Regions from separate parts of the Homo sapiens genome. Here region 2 is linked to region 1. Evidence: fine-mapped expression QTL. Tissue or cell type: whole blood. Region 1 holds a variant in brackets; the other region holds the start of a gene. All regions are shown on one strand. Distances are between the middles of the regions.

What was found. PIP is the estimated chance that this variant, and not a neighbour inherited with it, causes the effect.
Region 2: it holds the start of ZNF736, and the variant in region 1 is fine-mapped to the expression of ZNF736 in whole blood (TOPMed, PIP above 0.99). The same link has a PIP of 0.9 or more in adrenal gland, aorta, atrial appendage, cerebellar hemisphere, esophagus mucosa and esophagus muscle.

What each region holds. Positions count from the first base shown.
Region 1 is chr7:64,682,332-64,690,438 of GRCh38, forward strand. All of the region lies in intron 1 of ZNF107 (zinc finger protein 107), which reads left to right. It also overlaps the pseudogene BNIP3P11. Among named protein-coding and RNA genes, the nearest start is that of MIR6839, 7.3 kb to the left of the region's middle. The variant G/A (reference allele first, on the strand shown) is at 4,912.
Region 2 is chr7:64,309,695-64,317,801 of GRCh38, forward strand. It overlaps ZNF736 (zinc finger protein 736), which reads left to right and starts at 4,267. Exons shown (of 4, transcript NM_001170905.3): 1 at 4,267-4,459. The coding sequence starts at 4,457. It overlaps LOC105375322 (a long non-coding RNA gene), which reads right to left and starts at 782. Exons shown (of 5, transcript XR_927582.2): 1 at 1-782. RefSeq lists an enhancer at 4,320-4,499.

The sequences.
Region 1 (8,107 bases):
CAGCTTCTCTCCTTCCTAGGCATCATTGGGTACTTCCACCTCTAGGTACCTGGTTTTGCCCTCTTAACAAAACCCCTTTATAAGCTTACAAAAGGCAACCTAGCTGACCCCATAGACCCCAAACCTTCCCTCATTCATCCTTTCACTCCCTGAAAAAAGCTCTTGAGACAGCCTCCTCACTGGCGTTCCTCGACTCCACCCAGCCCTTCTCTCTACATGGCAGAGGTAAAGGGATGTGCAGTTGGGGTCCTAACACAAGGGCCAGGCCCACGACCAGTGGCCTACTTATCTAAACTTGACCTCACAGTCCTAGGCTGGCTGCCCTGTTTACATGCTGCAGCGGCCACTGCCCTAATACTCCTAGAATCCCTCAAAATCACTGGTTACACCCCAGTTACCCTCTATAGCGCTCACAACCTCCAGAGTCTCATTTCTTCCTCTCACCTCACACAACTACTCTCCTCCCATCTCCTCCAGCTTTATTCACTCTTTATTTTAAACCCCATGCTAACCATTGCTCTTGGACCCAGTTTCAACCCAGCCTTTCACTTAGCACCCAACACATGTCCTGAGCCACATGACTGCATCTCCTTAATACACATGGCATCCTCCCCCTCTCCTCACATTTCTGTTTTTCCAGTCCCAAACCCAGATCACACTTGGTTTATTGATGGTAGTTCTTCAAGACCCAACCAATTTTCGCCAGCCAAGGCAGGTTATGCTATTTGTTGTGTCCCACACATCTGTTATCGAGGCTGCTGCACTTCCACCCTCCACCACCTCTCAGCAAGCTGAACTAATTGCTTTAACTCACGCTGTCTCTCTCTAAGGGAATGCACGTCAATATTTATACTGATTCCAGGTATGCTTTCCACATCCTTCATCACAGTGCTGCCATCTGGGTGGAAAGAGGTTTTCTAACCACACAAGGGTCTTCCATTATCAATGCCTTTCTCATAAAGGCCCTCCTTAAGGCTGCTCTTCTGCCAGCCAAGGCTGGAGTTGTCCACTGCAGAGGATGCCAAAAACCAACAGACCCTATCACTAAAGGAAATGCCCATGCCAGTAAAACAGCAAAAGAGGTGGCAAACACCTCAGTGTCTGCAGACGTTCCAGTCTCTGCTCCAAAAGACCAGTATATTTCTTTCTCATCTATTATCCCTACCTACTACTCTTCTTCTGAAAACCTGCTCTGCTAGTCCTTTCCAACTCACAAGGCAAGTGGTTCTTAGATCATAGAAAGTTCCTTCTTCCTGCCTCACAAGCGCAATCTATTCTCTTATCCCTCCATGACCGCTTCCATGTAGGATACAAGCCTTTGGCTCGCCTCCTAGAGCCCCTTATTTCTTTCTCATCATGGAAGTCCGTCCTTAAACAATCACTTCTTAATGTTCTGTCTGCCACTCCAAGGTTTTCTTAGGCCCCCTCCTTCCCCAGCACATCAGGCCTGAGGGTTTACTACTACACAAGATTGGCAAATTGACTTCACTCATATGCCTCGTGTCAAAAAATATAAGTACCTCCTAGTTTGGGTTGATACCTTCACCAGATGGGTCGAGGCCTTCCCTACTGGATCTGAAAAGGCTGCAGCAGTTTTTACCTCTCTTCTAACAGATATTGTTACCTGTTTCGGCCTCCCTACTTCCATCCAATCTGACAGTGGTCCAGCCTTCATTAGCCAAATCACCCAGGCAGTTTCCCAGGCCCTTGGCATCCAGTGGAATCTCCACACCCCATACCATCCTCATTCCTCAGGAAAGGTTGAAAGAGCCAACGGCCTCTTAAAAACTCACCCTCCAACTCCGAAAGGACTGGACTGTTCTCCTACCACTTGTGCTTCTCAGGATCTGAGCCACCGCCCATGAACCTACCAGGTATAGCCCATTCGAACTCTTATATGGTAGTACTTTTCTACTGGGGCCCAACCTCATCCCAGACACCAGTCCTCCAACAGGCTAGGAATGAAATCTGTCAGGCTGCTAACCTTCTTTTACCCACCTCAGATACCCAGCCATATGAGGACACTCTGGCCAGACAGCCCATCCTGATAAAGAGCTTAACCCCCTGATCTCTACAACCTCAGTGGACAGGACCCTTCCTGGTCGTTTATGGTACCCCAATGGCTGTCTGCTTACAAGATCCTCCTCAGTGGATTCACCCTTCCAGAGTAAAGCTGTGTCCATCTGACACTCAGCCTGACCCTTCTTCCTCCTCTTGGAAGTCGCAAGTACTCTCCCCGACCTCGTTAAAACTCACCGAAATCCCTGAAGAAACTTAAATGTCCTGCTCCTGTCCGCCCTGCTTCTTCACCCTCTTCCTCCACTCTATTTGCCAAGACATCTCCTGGTTTCATCCCCAAACTCCCACCTTAGATTCTCTCTTAAACTGGATAGATGATCTCATCTTTTAGGGCACTCTGTATAACTTCTTCCCAGATGAGACGCCTCTGTTTACCTTCCTACTCACTCTTTATCTATCCCTCCTGCTCCTTTGGCTACCTGGCATGGCCGCACTCCCACTTCCAGTAATGCCTAATTACCTCTACAAAACTCTCAACCCACTCTCTGTTAAACCAGTCCAACCCTTCTTTGGCAAAGGACGCTGGCTTTGCATTTCTCTATCAGCTACCACTTACGTTGCCACTCTCATTCCCACAAAAAACTGGGTAGTTACTAGCTTAACCTACCACCCTCGTAATGAAGGAAAAAGCCCCTTCTAACTCCTACATATGCAGTCATTGGCCAACTTCTCCATCAATGAAATGACCGAAAATACCCTGACAGGTCGTGCAGTTCAACTTTTACGCTCCTACATGTCCAGCCTCACCCATTACACAAGTAATGAAAAGCCCATACACGGCCCTGTGACTACAAACGCTGTCTTAACTTTCCAAGCCCCTTTATGCATCCAACACAACCTGTCATCAGGCCTACCTCTAGGTCACCTACTGTTCCATCAGTGCAACTACGCCTTGCAGCTTCAAGCCCCAACTGACTGTATTAACTTCCAGGTCTCCCAAACAGCTACATTCAAACAGCCTGTCCGCTTCTCAAAGCCCCCAGAAGTCATCAGCACCTCTCTGCTTAACAAACAATCCGGGTTTTGTAATGGCAGGCATACGCACTGCATGACCATTCACCCCTGGACCTCCTGCAGCAGCACTCCCACCACTGACGAATGCCTCCTTATCCCCTCTTTCGATTACCCTTCTGAGTGGCTCCTAGTAGATACAAAATGATTTTTCCTCCAATGGGAAAATAAAACACAGGGAGCCACTCAGCTTATCCCAAACATCCCTTTTCAGCCGCTCACTGGGGCCGCCTTGGCAAGTACCCTAGGGGTGTGGGAAAATGAAAACAAATTCACACACCTTTTTAACATACACAGCCAGTTCTGCCTACCCAGCCAAGGCATATTCTTCTTGTGTGGAACTTCAACCTATGTCTGCCTCACCACTAACTGGACAAGCACCTGTACCCTAATCTTCCTAAGCCCCAAAATTGACATTGCCCCTGGAAACCAAACCTTACCAGTCCCTGTCAGAGCCCAAGTCCATCAGCATAGGGCTGTGCAGATAATACCCTTGCTTATAGGACTAGGAGTTACCAATGCCACAGGAACTGGAATAGCAGGTTTGTCCCCTTCCCTGTCCTACTATCATACACTCTCAAAGGATCTCTCAGACAGCCTACAAGACATAGCAAAATCCACCCTTACTCTCCAATCCCAAATAGACTCCTTAGCAGCAGTAACTCTGCAGAACCACCGTGGCTTAGACCTCCTAACCGTCGAAAAAGGTGGGCTATGCACCTTTTTAGGGGAAGATTGTTTTTCCACCAACCAGTCTGGACTAGTACGAGATGCTGCCTCGCAGTTAAATGAAAAGGCTTCTAAAATCAGACAATGTCTTTCAGACTTTTAACACCAATCTTTGGAGCTGGGCGTTGTGGCTTCTCCCTATAGCTGGGCCCCTCATTTCCATCATTCTCCTTCTCCTATTTGGACCCTGCCTCTTCCGTCTAGCCTCTCAGTTCCTACAAAATCTCATTCAAGCTATTACCAATCAATCTATGCGACAAATGCTACTCCTAACTGCCCCTCAATGTCACCCCCACCCCAAGATCTCTCTCCCAATTAGGAGTCCATGCCGCCCCAAGTCCCGCTCGAAGAATCCCTGAGAAACATCACCCCGTCCACTTCTTTTCTTATTAAAACAAAAAGACAGGAATGTCATATCCCACAAATATGGCTGCATTATTGCCAGCAGGCCATTATTGACGGTGGGCCATTAAGAACTCTGTGACCAGCACATATGCCTCCAGACTTCCTGGAACCAGAAAACCTGCAACAACCAAAAACCACAAAAGAAGAACAACGGGTTTCTGTTCCAACTGGTTGATCAACTTCTTGAGTCAACAAGTCCCAAAACCATGTTGTAATTTTCCACCCGCCACTTTGCCCTGTAAAGACTGCTCTCCCTCACACCTCCGGGCTGACTCCCTTTTCCGATTCAGCCCACTAACACCCAAGTGAATAAACGGCCTTGTTGCTCACACAAAGTCTGCTTGGGTCTTCAATCCAGACCACGCTGTAACACACACTTACAAAATTCTGCTGAGAATATGCCCCCCGTTATTCATAATGCTCATGTTTTTCATACTGAGGGTAGCTGTGCACTTTGGGTTTTTACAGAGAAATGTGTTTTAGGGGAAGTTTTTCTGGCTGACTTGTTCAATCATATCTAATCTGAGTTTTTTTCTTAAGATGCTTTTCTTTTTTTTTCCCTCTCAATATAATCATTTTCAGAGTGAGCTGTTTTTCTCTTGAATGCATTGGGTGTCTGTTTTGGAAGCCCTATTACTATCCCATGGTGTCTGTTAATGAGGTGGGCTGTCATAGTGAGAACTCTTG[G/A]AGCTATCTCTATATGGACTCATGCTGGAAATCCAGCAGAGTGATTTCCATGTCACCATTACAAATAAAAAACTGAGGCTTAAACACTGCACCCATTCCCATTATTGTGAAGGTGCAATTCTACCCAGGAGGCCTGCAGGCTCTCCTCCTGCAACTCAGGCTTCATTCTCTGATGTGGCATTGAAGTGCTGCTGTGGCAGTTGGGGTTATATATAGGGTGCCAGGTGTGAGCTGTGTGCTGGGGGCTCTGCCTCAGTGGCAGATGGTAGGAGTCAAGAGAGGACACAAGCTACCAGGAGACGGCAAGCAGGAGGCACCTGGCTTTAAGTTGCAAAATTACCTTTTGTCATGAAGATGTGAAAAGTGTATTTTGTCATTGATTATAACCAATTAGCATATATGGATGACCTCCCAAATTACCAGGTGAATTTATGATGAACTATGTATGACATGTGCTGTAAATTTTTCTACTTGTGGACTAATTATTGTGACCGTCTTTCTGTCTTTGCAATCTCTTAAGCAGATTGACTGTGATGCATGTCACATTCTGGTTGAATTGTGTAATAAAACAGCTTTCTTTCTGTTCTATCATTGTGGAGTTACTCTGGAGCTGGAGAAAATTTTTCTTTTATTTATATTTTCCAAACACTGTCTAGAATTACCACACATGATATAAACATATAAGGTGCCAACCAAGCTTTAATCCAGAGGAGGCTTTTCCTTTCAGGCTTCCAGTCAACTCACAATTGTGCTGCAAAATGCATGCTGTCCCCTAAATATGCAGGCAGAATTGTGTCTCTGTCTATTTGGTGTTATAGTCCTCTACAGTCACCTCTAGAGAGCTAGGCCAGATTTCTACATACTTCACAGGGCAGCAGTTAACCATTTTACCTCTTTCAATGACTCTTGTATCTTTAGACCAGAAACTGCTTCAGAGATCATGGGACCCAGAAACCCAGAGTAACGTGTGCCTTAAGTAGACATGAGAATCTCCATATTTTTTCCCTTCCTCCTCTTTTTTTTTTTTTTTTTGACATGGGTTCTCACTCTGTTGCCCAGGCTGGAGTGCAGTGGCATGATCTCGGCTCACTGCAACCTCCACCTTCTGGGTTCAAATGATTCTTCTGCCTCAGCCTCCTGAGTAGCTGGGATTACAAGCACGCACCAAGACGTACAGCTAATTTTTGTATGTTTAGTGGAAGGGGGGGTTTCACCATGTTGGCCAGGCTGGTCTCAAACTCATGACCTCAGGTGATCTGCCTGCCTCGGCCTCCCAAAGTGCTGGTGTTACAGGTATGAGCCACCACACCCAACCCCTTCTTCCTCTTCTTAAAATACCCACAAATGTGTGGATGACACCTACTGCTACTGCACCCATCCAGGAACTAAATTTGCAGCTCCAAATTCTGAATCAGGGTCTTAAGATTTGGGAAAAAATAAAACCTTTTATCTGAGAAATGCAAATTCTTTTAGTTATAAGGTTCAGAGACATTAAAATAATACCACAATTATGTATTTCTCTGTTCTTTGAGCTAAGAATTTATCTCTTGAAACTGCTTGCTATTGCCACAAGTAGGTATAAATTAAACTAATAATGACACACTGGATCCTGTAACCCACACCCTATAGCTTAACAATGTTTATCCAATCAATAATCAATCTTATTTTTTTGTAAACAAATGAGAGTTTCTGACAAACAACTTTGTATCAGCCCACCCTCTTTCCCTCTCTTTTTGCCTTTACAAATCCACTTGCAGCTGCGCTAATCAAAGTGTAGATTCCTGGCAACATGAATCTTTGATCCCAGGTTACAATTCCCAATCTTGGCTCAAATAAACTCTCTACTTATATTCATGTAGCTTCAGCTTTTTCCTTTCAAGTAGACATATTATTTAGAATGTGCTAGAGCAGCCTCTATGAGGCGATCTCTCCTTTGGTTGTGCTCCACTTGCTGTAACACCCAAAAATGCAGAGGCAGGCTGCTCCCACCTAGAATCTGTACATAAGGTCTGGCCTCTCCCTGGAATTTACAAGACAGGGCCAGACTCTGGTTTGAGAAAGTACAGAAAACCAACAGGAGACATTTTCTGCATTGTGAGATGTCAACATAGACATCTTAAAGCTTCCCTTTGAGAGTGTTGCTCTTAGAACTTTTCAGATCTTGTTCAGTGACCTGCTACAGTTATGTGAGAGGATCCAGGTGTAAATAGAATCTGATGACAGATTCTGTAAGCGTAAACAAGCATCTTAGGGGTGAGAGATGAAGGCCACAAAGTATCGAGAGTCATGATCACAATTATACCTACCCGTAAAATGTAATACTGGACTAGAGTATTTTTTCTTTCCTTTTGCCCAAGAGCTAGCTAATTAGGACCCGTAATCTGGAGCTCCACTGTGGCAGTTCCACTTTCTATTTAGAATCAGCCTGAGTCTCTCCTGCCTGCCTTATCCTTGGCCATCAGCCCAGGGTCACTGGGAACTCTCTCACAATCACCTAGGCATCTTTGAGATATTTGAGGATGTCCAGAGCAGAATTGTGTCAGGTTGACAAGAGTGGTTAATTCTGCCTCTGTCTCAGTGTAAGAGAAATGAGACATCCTGTGTTTGCTCCTCCCCTCATACAAGAGATGTCTTTGGTTGGTATCCAGTTGAGAGTTTCCCAGTTTCCTGATAGTTGGATGAAAAACAAGGAGGAGGTCTGGAGACTCAAGCAGATAAACTAATTGCTACCATTTCATATGGCCCTTAGAAAAATAGATAAAGCAGTCATGGTCCCTACCATCTAGGAACTGTTAGTCTAGACTAGCAACTGAATACGTGGTTGAATTAAGCATCATATGGTTGGCAAAGTGAATAGATGTGTGGGAAAACGTGTGGGCTTTATTTGGGCCACTTTCTTTATATCGTTGTGACTTCTGAGGTCATCATTTGAATGAATGTTTATGACCACAAGAGTTTTAAATATTTTTATTTCTTTTACTTTGCTAAGAATACATATTTATCTTATAATAAAATTACCCTAGAAAACCCCAGGAGATTTGTTTAAATGGCTAATTAGTATATTTACACAGTTGATGGGTTGAGCAGAGTAATATATAGGGTTTACTCCCAGCTGCAGTTCTGTTCAGATTCACCCTTTTTGGAGGCTTTATTTAGGTCTGGCCCCACCCTGGAGTCTTGCCTCACAGAACTGATT
Region 2 (8,107 bases), 370 kb before region 1:
ATTATATAGTATGTATACTTTTACATATACTTTCTTTTGTACATCATATTTGTAATATTCATCAATCCTGCTGTAGATATGTAAGTACTGAGATTACAGGCATGAGCCAACGTGCTCAGCCTAAAATATTTTAGGAGGTTAAGGTGGGAGGATCACTTGTGGCTGGGAATTTTAGACCAGCCTGGGCAATAGAGTGAGACCCTCTCTCTACAAAAAAATTAAAAATTAGCCAGGCACGGTGGCATGTGTCTGCTATTCCAGCTACTCAGAAGACTGAGGCAGAAAGATCAGTTGAGCCCATAAGTTCAAGGCTACAGGAAGCAATGATTGCACTCCTGCACTCCCATCTGGGTAACAGAGCAAGACTCTGTCTCTTAAAAAATAATATAAAAATTTAAAATAATTTTATACATTATGTTAAAATACACATAAAATTAACTATTTTAACCATTTTAAAGGTTTCCATTGAGATGAATTAAGTACACTCATTATTTTGCTACCATCATTTCCATATATAAAAAGCATATTCCATTTTTTGAAACTGAAACTGTACCCATTAAACAACTCCTTATTCTCCCTGTAGCCCCTGGGAAACACTCTCCTACTTGGTGTTTTCTATGACTTTAACTACTCTTAAGTACCACATATGAGAAGAATCATATAGTAAAGAAATCATGAGGAAGAATGATAAAAAATGTATCACATGCTTATTAATTTTCAATAAAAACACCAACAGAGATCAGTAGTACCTGTTGATTATAAATAAACAGATAAATGAGAAAAAGGAATTGGCAGTGTGCATTGTATTTATGACAATGGGGCCTCAAGTACCATAGCAGTGAGTCCTCTGCCCCAGGCACAGGGCTGGTCAGTGGTGGAGCTGGAAGCCCAGTGTAGCTGTCTGACACCCGGATCCCATGCCTAACCCAAATGTCACTGAGCCCTAAGGCACTTCGCTCCTGCTGGTCCAGGCAGTGTCCCCTAAGATTCATCATGGCATGTTCTCCATGGCCTTAAGGAGTTGCTGGCCTACTGGGATAAGCGATCCAGCTGGCAGGACAGGTTGTAGCTACAAGTCATAGAGGCAGATGTGAGGTCTCTATGTAGGAGTCACACCCCTAGTCTCCTTCCCAGTGCCTGCCCAGCTGGAGTGCTGGGCCCCCGGGGTCACCATGCAGCAGGGCCTGACACTGACCAGGGAGCCATGGCCACAGGCTCTTGGCAGCTGGCCCAAAATAAATATTCTCCATAACCTCTGCCGATCTGCTGGACCCTCACCTCTCAGTCTCACTGAGCCACTCCGTTAACTGGAGGCAGACCCAAAATTGCTCCACAGGCTGAAGGTGATAATTGTCTACAGCCAGCTGAAGCAGCTGCATCTCCTGGAGAACTTTGATCTCCTGCAGCTAAAGGGGGGGACAAGTGGAAGATGCGGATAGGAGGGTCCAGGAGACAGGGGATTATGAGATTTCAGGGGACAGGCCTCGAAGGGACACCCAAAAGTGAGTAGTCATCCCCATCACCACCCGACAGCACAGGGTGTTGCCTCCATCCTGGACACATTTTCCAGTTATCTGGTGATGGGAAACCCTGCCAGAAAGGATTATATGGATGGGAGTGAGCCTGGGATGGGCAGGGCTGGAACCAGAATCCTGAGGCTTGGGAGAAGAGAATCAGGACTACACCCTTAGATCTCAGCACTTGGCAAACTTCCTCTCATGAGAGCGTCACGGCTGCCTCTGTGAGCTGAGGTATCAGGCCCCTCTTCCCTATGAATGTTGAAGATTCCACACCAGCCACCAGTCCCTGTTCCCTGAGTGATGAAGCTGCAGAGCTGTCTGCTTGCAAAGCCCAGTGAGGTTTTGCCTGAGCTGGACTCAGACTCTCCCTCAGATGGTGCCAATGGAAGGATAGTAAACTTAGGCCTCTCCAAGGGCAGGCAGCTCGTATGTGGCTGAGCACTTTTGTTTTTTGTTTTTTGGTTTTTTTTGAGATGGAGCCTCCTCTGTCACCCAGGCTGGAGTGCAGTGGCATGATCTTGGCTCACTGCAAACTCCGCCTCCCAGGTTCAAGCAATTCTCTGCCTCAGCCTCCTTAGTAGCTGGGATTACAGGTGCCCACAACCACGCCCAGCTAATTCTTGTATTTTTAGTAGAGACGGGGTTTTGCCATCTTGGCCAGGCTGGTCTTGAACTCCTGACCTGGTGATCCACCATCCTCAGCCTCCCAAAGTACTGGGATTACAGGTGTGAGCCACCGTGCCTGGCCTGGCTGAGCACTTTTTTAAATGGGAGCCCTCAGTTTTTATGTCTGTCATCAAAGAGAGTTGGGGTGGGAGGTCCCTGAGCCTCAGCTCCCATTGTCCCCTTTGAACCCCAGAACCTGCTGCAGACCCAAGTCCTGCTTTGTGCACATCCCCTGCCCCTGGTGGCCCTGGCAGTAATGCAGTATGAAGAGTGTGGGGAGGGGACCTAGTCAGGGTCCAAGGGGCCTTTCTGATGACCATTGGCTGACTTCTAGGGAAATGTAACACCCAGAAAGAAAAGGAAGGTGAGCAGCTGGGGCAACATTGGGAGAGAGTGGGGAGGTGAAAGTCAGCAACACCCTGTGCTATCAGGTGGTGATGGGGATGAGTATCCACTTTTGGGTGTCCATTCAAGGCCTGTCCCTGAAATCTCATAAGCCCCCATCTCCTGGACTCTCCTATCCACATCTTTTACTTGAAAAAGCCAAAGACACGCAGCTGCCTCTCTCCAACTCTCTCCCCTCTTCCTAGCTGGCCTCCAAAAACATGAAGCACTCCCTTATTAACTCTGTGGTGAGATTTTAACAAGTCACAATGTTATGTGGTCCCTAGCTCCACCGTTTCCCAAATCCACTCAGCCCAGCTCTTCCAGGCCTTTACTCTGATTTCTCTTATAGAGGCATTTCAGGGACTGTTGCCACAGGAGGGAAGGGCTGAGGGAGAAAGGCCCCTTGCTCTTTTGATGTGGAGGCCTCCAGCTGGGAGGGAGGAGCTCTTCCCTCTGAATCCCTGGAGCTCTTCCCCATCACAGGTACCTGCCTTTTTGCTGCTTTAGCCTCATCTGGGCTTTCTGTGGTTTCTTCTCTAGGGTGGCCAACTTGGGTGTCTTCCTCTGCCAGGGTCAAGGACAAGGTCAGTGATATTATGCTCCCTTCACCCAGTTATGCCCAGTTACATTGACCTGGTACCCTGGATAACTGGTGTGAGTCAAGCTGGTCCAGTGCTCCTGCCACCTCCAGTAAACTCTGATTCTAGATTCACTCCCTGCTGCAACACTCACTGTGTGTGGAACCTTGGGCATGCAGCCAGGCCTCCCTGAGACTGTTTCTCAACTTGAAAGTGTGATGGGAACCACACCTACCTCACTGGGCCTCGTGAGGACTCAGTTATATGTAGCCGTCACCATTGTTCTCATCATCATCTCTCTCAGGAAGAGCCAGGCACAAGCACTCTCAAATTTTTCTCCTTTGAAGCTCCTCATTACCCTGTGAGGCTCATCATCCCTACATTTTTTAGATAAGAAAACAGAGGCCCAAAGAGGGCAGTGACTTGCCCAGGGCTCTACAGAAGAGGCCGGCTCCTCCCCACACCTGGAGGCCCTGACCTAGCTGACTTTACCCCACAGCCCAGCACTATCCCTGACTAGGGTCCCATCTTGGTTCTCCATGCTTGTTTAGGTCCTCAGGCAGGCTCAGCTTTGGTGGGAAAGAGACAGGGTGTTTTGGGAGGCCTGGGCGAGTGGCACCTCTAACCAATCTGCTAGGCCCTCACCTCTCAGTCTCACTGAGACACTCCATTAATTGGAAGCAGACCCAAAATTGCTTCACAGACTGAAGGTGATAATTGTCTACAGCCAGCTGAAGCAGCTGCATCTCCTGGAGGACTTTGATCTCCTGCAGCTAAAGGGAAAGACAGGATGCTGAGACAGGGCCTGCAGCATACACATAACTATAATTCAGAATGTAATATATACACACACACGAAAATATAATCAGAAAGTGATATAATCTTATATGCAAGGTTAAATACAAATGTCTCTCAGGCAGGGCCAGGCCCCCAGCACAGGGAGGACTCGCCTGAAAACGCTGCAGGCAAAAACCTGTCACCCTTGCCTCATTCAGCCCAGTGTCTGATTACATCTTCTGTCACTTAGGATTGAAACGGGTGGGGCCTGGAGCCCTAGCCAATCAGTGGCGCCAGCGTGAAACTGTCCAATCAAGTGCGCAGCTACAGAGGAAGAGGCGGCCTCTTCAATATGGCGGGGCCTTTGTCTCCTAGCTTCCGGGCTCTGATCCTAGTTCGCGTCTCCACTGTTCCATCTCCTCCGTTCCTGGAGTTCCTCGGTGACTCTACTATAGCTTCTGTTATCCTGTGACCTGCAGGTACTGGGAGATCCATAGGGAGGACGGCGGAACATCTGGAGGCTGGGAAATGGTGAGTGCGTGGAGTGGGTGTCCCGAGAATGGGGAAGAGGCTGTTTGAATCCGGCCGGAACCGGCTGCGGTGGTATCTGGGCCTTCTCGCGGTCTGCTCTGGAGTCTGCATCCCCGAGTCCCCGCGGGCACAGCTCAATCCTCATTTCCCTCCATCGCAGATTAGGGGCTGAGCCAGCAGCCAAAACGCTACGTCTTGTTTTGTCCCTAAACTCGAATTTCTCCCCAGCTCAGATCCCTTCCTGGGCAGCTCTGTGCCGCAACCTCGAGTCTCCCTCCTCCAGATTGTGTGGGGGTGTTGGGAGTGTCATAAGACGGGAATTCTCATTTAGGGTCTGGAGTTCCTCCGTGGAAGAAGCAGTGGGCCGTGGGGTCCCTAGTCCCTCCTTTCTCCTTTTAAAAATAAAATCATGGCCCTTTTTTAAATTTATTTATTTTTGAGACAGTGTCTCACTCTGTTGCCCAGGCTAAAGTGCATTTCGGTTCACTGCAGCCTCCACCTACTGGGCTCAGATGATCCTCTCACCCCAGCCCCCCAAGTAGCTAGGACTAGAGGGGTGCGCCACCACGCCTATTTTGTTTTGTTTGTTTTTGTAGAGACAGGCTTTTGCCATGTTGCTCAGGCTGGTCTCGAACTCCCCGAGCTCAGGTCTCAGGTGATCCGCCCGCCTCGGGCCTCCTAAAGTGCCGGGATTACGTGCATGACCCACCACCCTAGCCTAAATTGAGGCAACTTTAGGATATAATTTGGATGTGTTTTCCAGCCCAAATCTCCTATTTAAATGTAATCCCCCATGTTGGAGGTGGGGCCTGGTGGAAGGATTGTGGGCCCGGATTTCTCACGAATAGTTTAGCACCATTCCTCTTGGTATTGTCCTCTCAATAGTGAGTGAGTTCCCTGAAGTTCATCATTTAGAAGTGTACAGCACCCCACCTTGCCTCTTTTTCAAGCTCTTGCTTCACCTTCATCCATGATTTTAAGCTTTCTGGGTGGGGCCTCCCCAGAAGCAGACGCTGGTGTTATGCTTTCTATGCAGCCTGTGGAACCATGAGCCAATTAATCCTCTTATAAATTACCCAGTCTGAGGTATTTATAGTAATGCCAGAAGCGATTAATACAAATAGTTTACTTGCACAAACAGTAATTTATCAATCAGAGAACACCCAGCTATGATTTGTTGTTTGGGGGCTCAAAGGAGGGTCTTGGAACAAAAGGTTGTTTTTTTTTTTTAAGAGGTATGAGGAAGCAAACCAGATTCAATATTTGATTGGTTACAGTTACGTATTGCATTTGCAGCCCTCCGGTGGAAATGTCCTGGTTATGTAATTAGAGCTTTTTATTGGCAGCTTGTGGTTGGTTAAGCCTAAGTTGTTTTGTTGTTGTTGTTGTTGTTTCTCAAAGTTAATAATTTACCAGAAATTCCTTCGACGTAGTTAGGTTTCCTTAGGCAGAATCCCAGGGCACCATGGCCACTTCAGCCTAATTGCTAGCTATTTAATTATTTTAATGCTCCACAGGGTCGTTGGTTTTCTCTGCATTTTTCAAATGTTTGGCAAGCAGGGTCTCAAATCTAAAACTGTTCTCCCAGCCTAACTGTTCTAGGGACTGTATAAAATTCTAAATTTCCAATTTCTTTCCCACATTCCCAAATGCCAACTATCCCTCTCCAAATCACATTATGAACTATCAGTTCTTTATTTAATTTTAAAACGGATGTGGCATTTTGTTTATTTTTGTTTAACAGAGCCGTGGGTGGCTCTTTTTAATATATTAGTCTGTTTGTGCATATTTCACAGGACAGAAAAGCAAAGAGTAGTCACCTGACACTGCGCATCTCCTCTCATCTTCTCTAGGCACGCGCGCCTTCCCAGAATGTCTTTGGATCCTTTGCAGGGTGATGTGTCCTCAGTCACTCTCCTGTGTTTTCCTGGTCCAAGTATTACAGCTTTCTGGGGATGATCCAAGATACCCACAAGGACCATATCTCTTGGAGTGTCTAGCAAACATTAGCCCCTGGGTCATCTCCTTTCAGAGAAGAGCCTGAGGCATTGGGTGGAGCCTCTCAGGGGAGCAGCTGGATGCCCTCGTGCTGAGAGCAGTTTCCTGATTCACCCTTCCTCTAAAAAGCTAACTGCTTTAACATTAAGATTTTTTTCCCCTCAATCCTAGTTTTCATTTCTTGCAGACACATTGGTGGTCAACCAATCAGGTGCTGATATTGAGGGGAAAAGGCACAAATGCATCTTGCCCTCTGGTTTCTCTCAGGCTTGTGAAGGAGAATAACTGTCCCAAAGTACAGGAAAGATCCACTCTAGTGAGGGAGTGTATAAATTTGCAAAGCAAAATACACATCTGCCACACAGGGGGCAAGTGCAGTATCTTTTGGGAGAGTGATGATCAAGTACTTTAGTGAGCAGAATGGGGGTGGGAGAATCTCTCAAGTGATTGACACATGAGTCTAAAACATTTGTGTTCCAGTCAGCACTACTTCTCCCTGTGTTTGTCACCTTCAATATATATGTTCAGTTATTTCAACTTCAGTTTTTCATTAATTGTATAATGGATTTTATCATTAGAGCTTGAAAGATTAAAAAAAAAATTTTCTAAAAGAAAAGAGGTAGATTTTAGAAAAAAATAGTTTATATTCCATTGGTTGAAAATTCTCATTTACCTTTTATATTTCCCACAGTGAGTGTAGTAAGATTCCGCGTCTGTTCTATTTAGCATGATTTCAAACAGAATCCCAGGGCTTAGCTTTGGGAATGCTACCTGGGAAAAGACAGAGGAAATGTCTCTCTCATGATGCCTGCAGAAAAATAAATACATTTCTACAAGAAAGTGTGGTAGATTAACACGTAAATTACAAAACATTCATGAAAACATCAGTTTCTCTCTTGTGCAGGGTGGAGAATTTGTGACAGTGGCCAACTCATTTTTTTAAAAAATTTCTACTTTGTAGGAAGTATTTATGTGTACACAATAAAAAGATATTTCCCACCATACATACATATCTTTGCTCAGGTAATATATGTAACCTAAAGCAATATGATTGTCTAGTATAATCGTAGCCAGTGAATCAGTAGCTTTTTTTTGAGCTGCAATGGATGTAACAGTTTTATCAGTAATTTTTTCTAAGCTTATAAAAATATTTTTAATCATGTGTTCATGGGAGGTGACACCTCACCAAGGCAAAAACATTTTTTTCCAATAAAATGAATGAAGCTGTTTTTTGAAAGCCAGGCAGATAATTAGCAGATTTTTTTCAAATAGAATCTTAATCTAAAACAGATTGGTGGCCATGCCTGTGGAAAAGTTAGAGAGAATTTGTCCAGTACTGGGTTTTTTCAGAGCTATGTAGAGAGAGCAGTGACCAGATATTTTAAAAGACATTACCCTTCAATTTAGTGGCACAGGTACTGGCCAAGAAAATCTAATATGGTTCCTTCCAACAAATTTGGAGTAAATCTTCTTCATAAAAGTAGAAAATCAAATTTTATTTTTATATTATTAATATTAAAGCTAACCTTAGGAAAGCATTATAAACAGATGTATTCAATCTCAATCAGCTTTGACCATACAAGATTTCTGTAAACCTTTTATAACCCCTTAAAATTTTATTTTTCTCTTTCTCCAGCTTTCTATATCCAT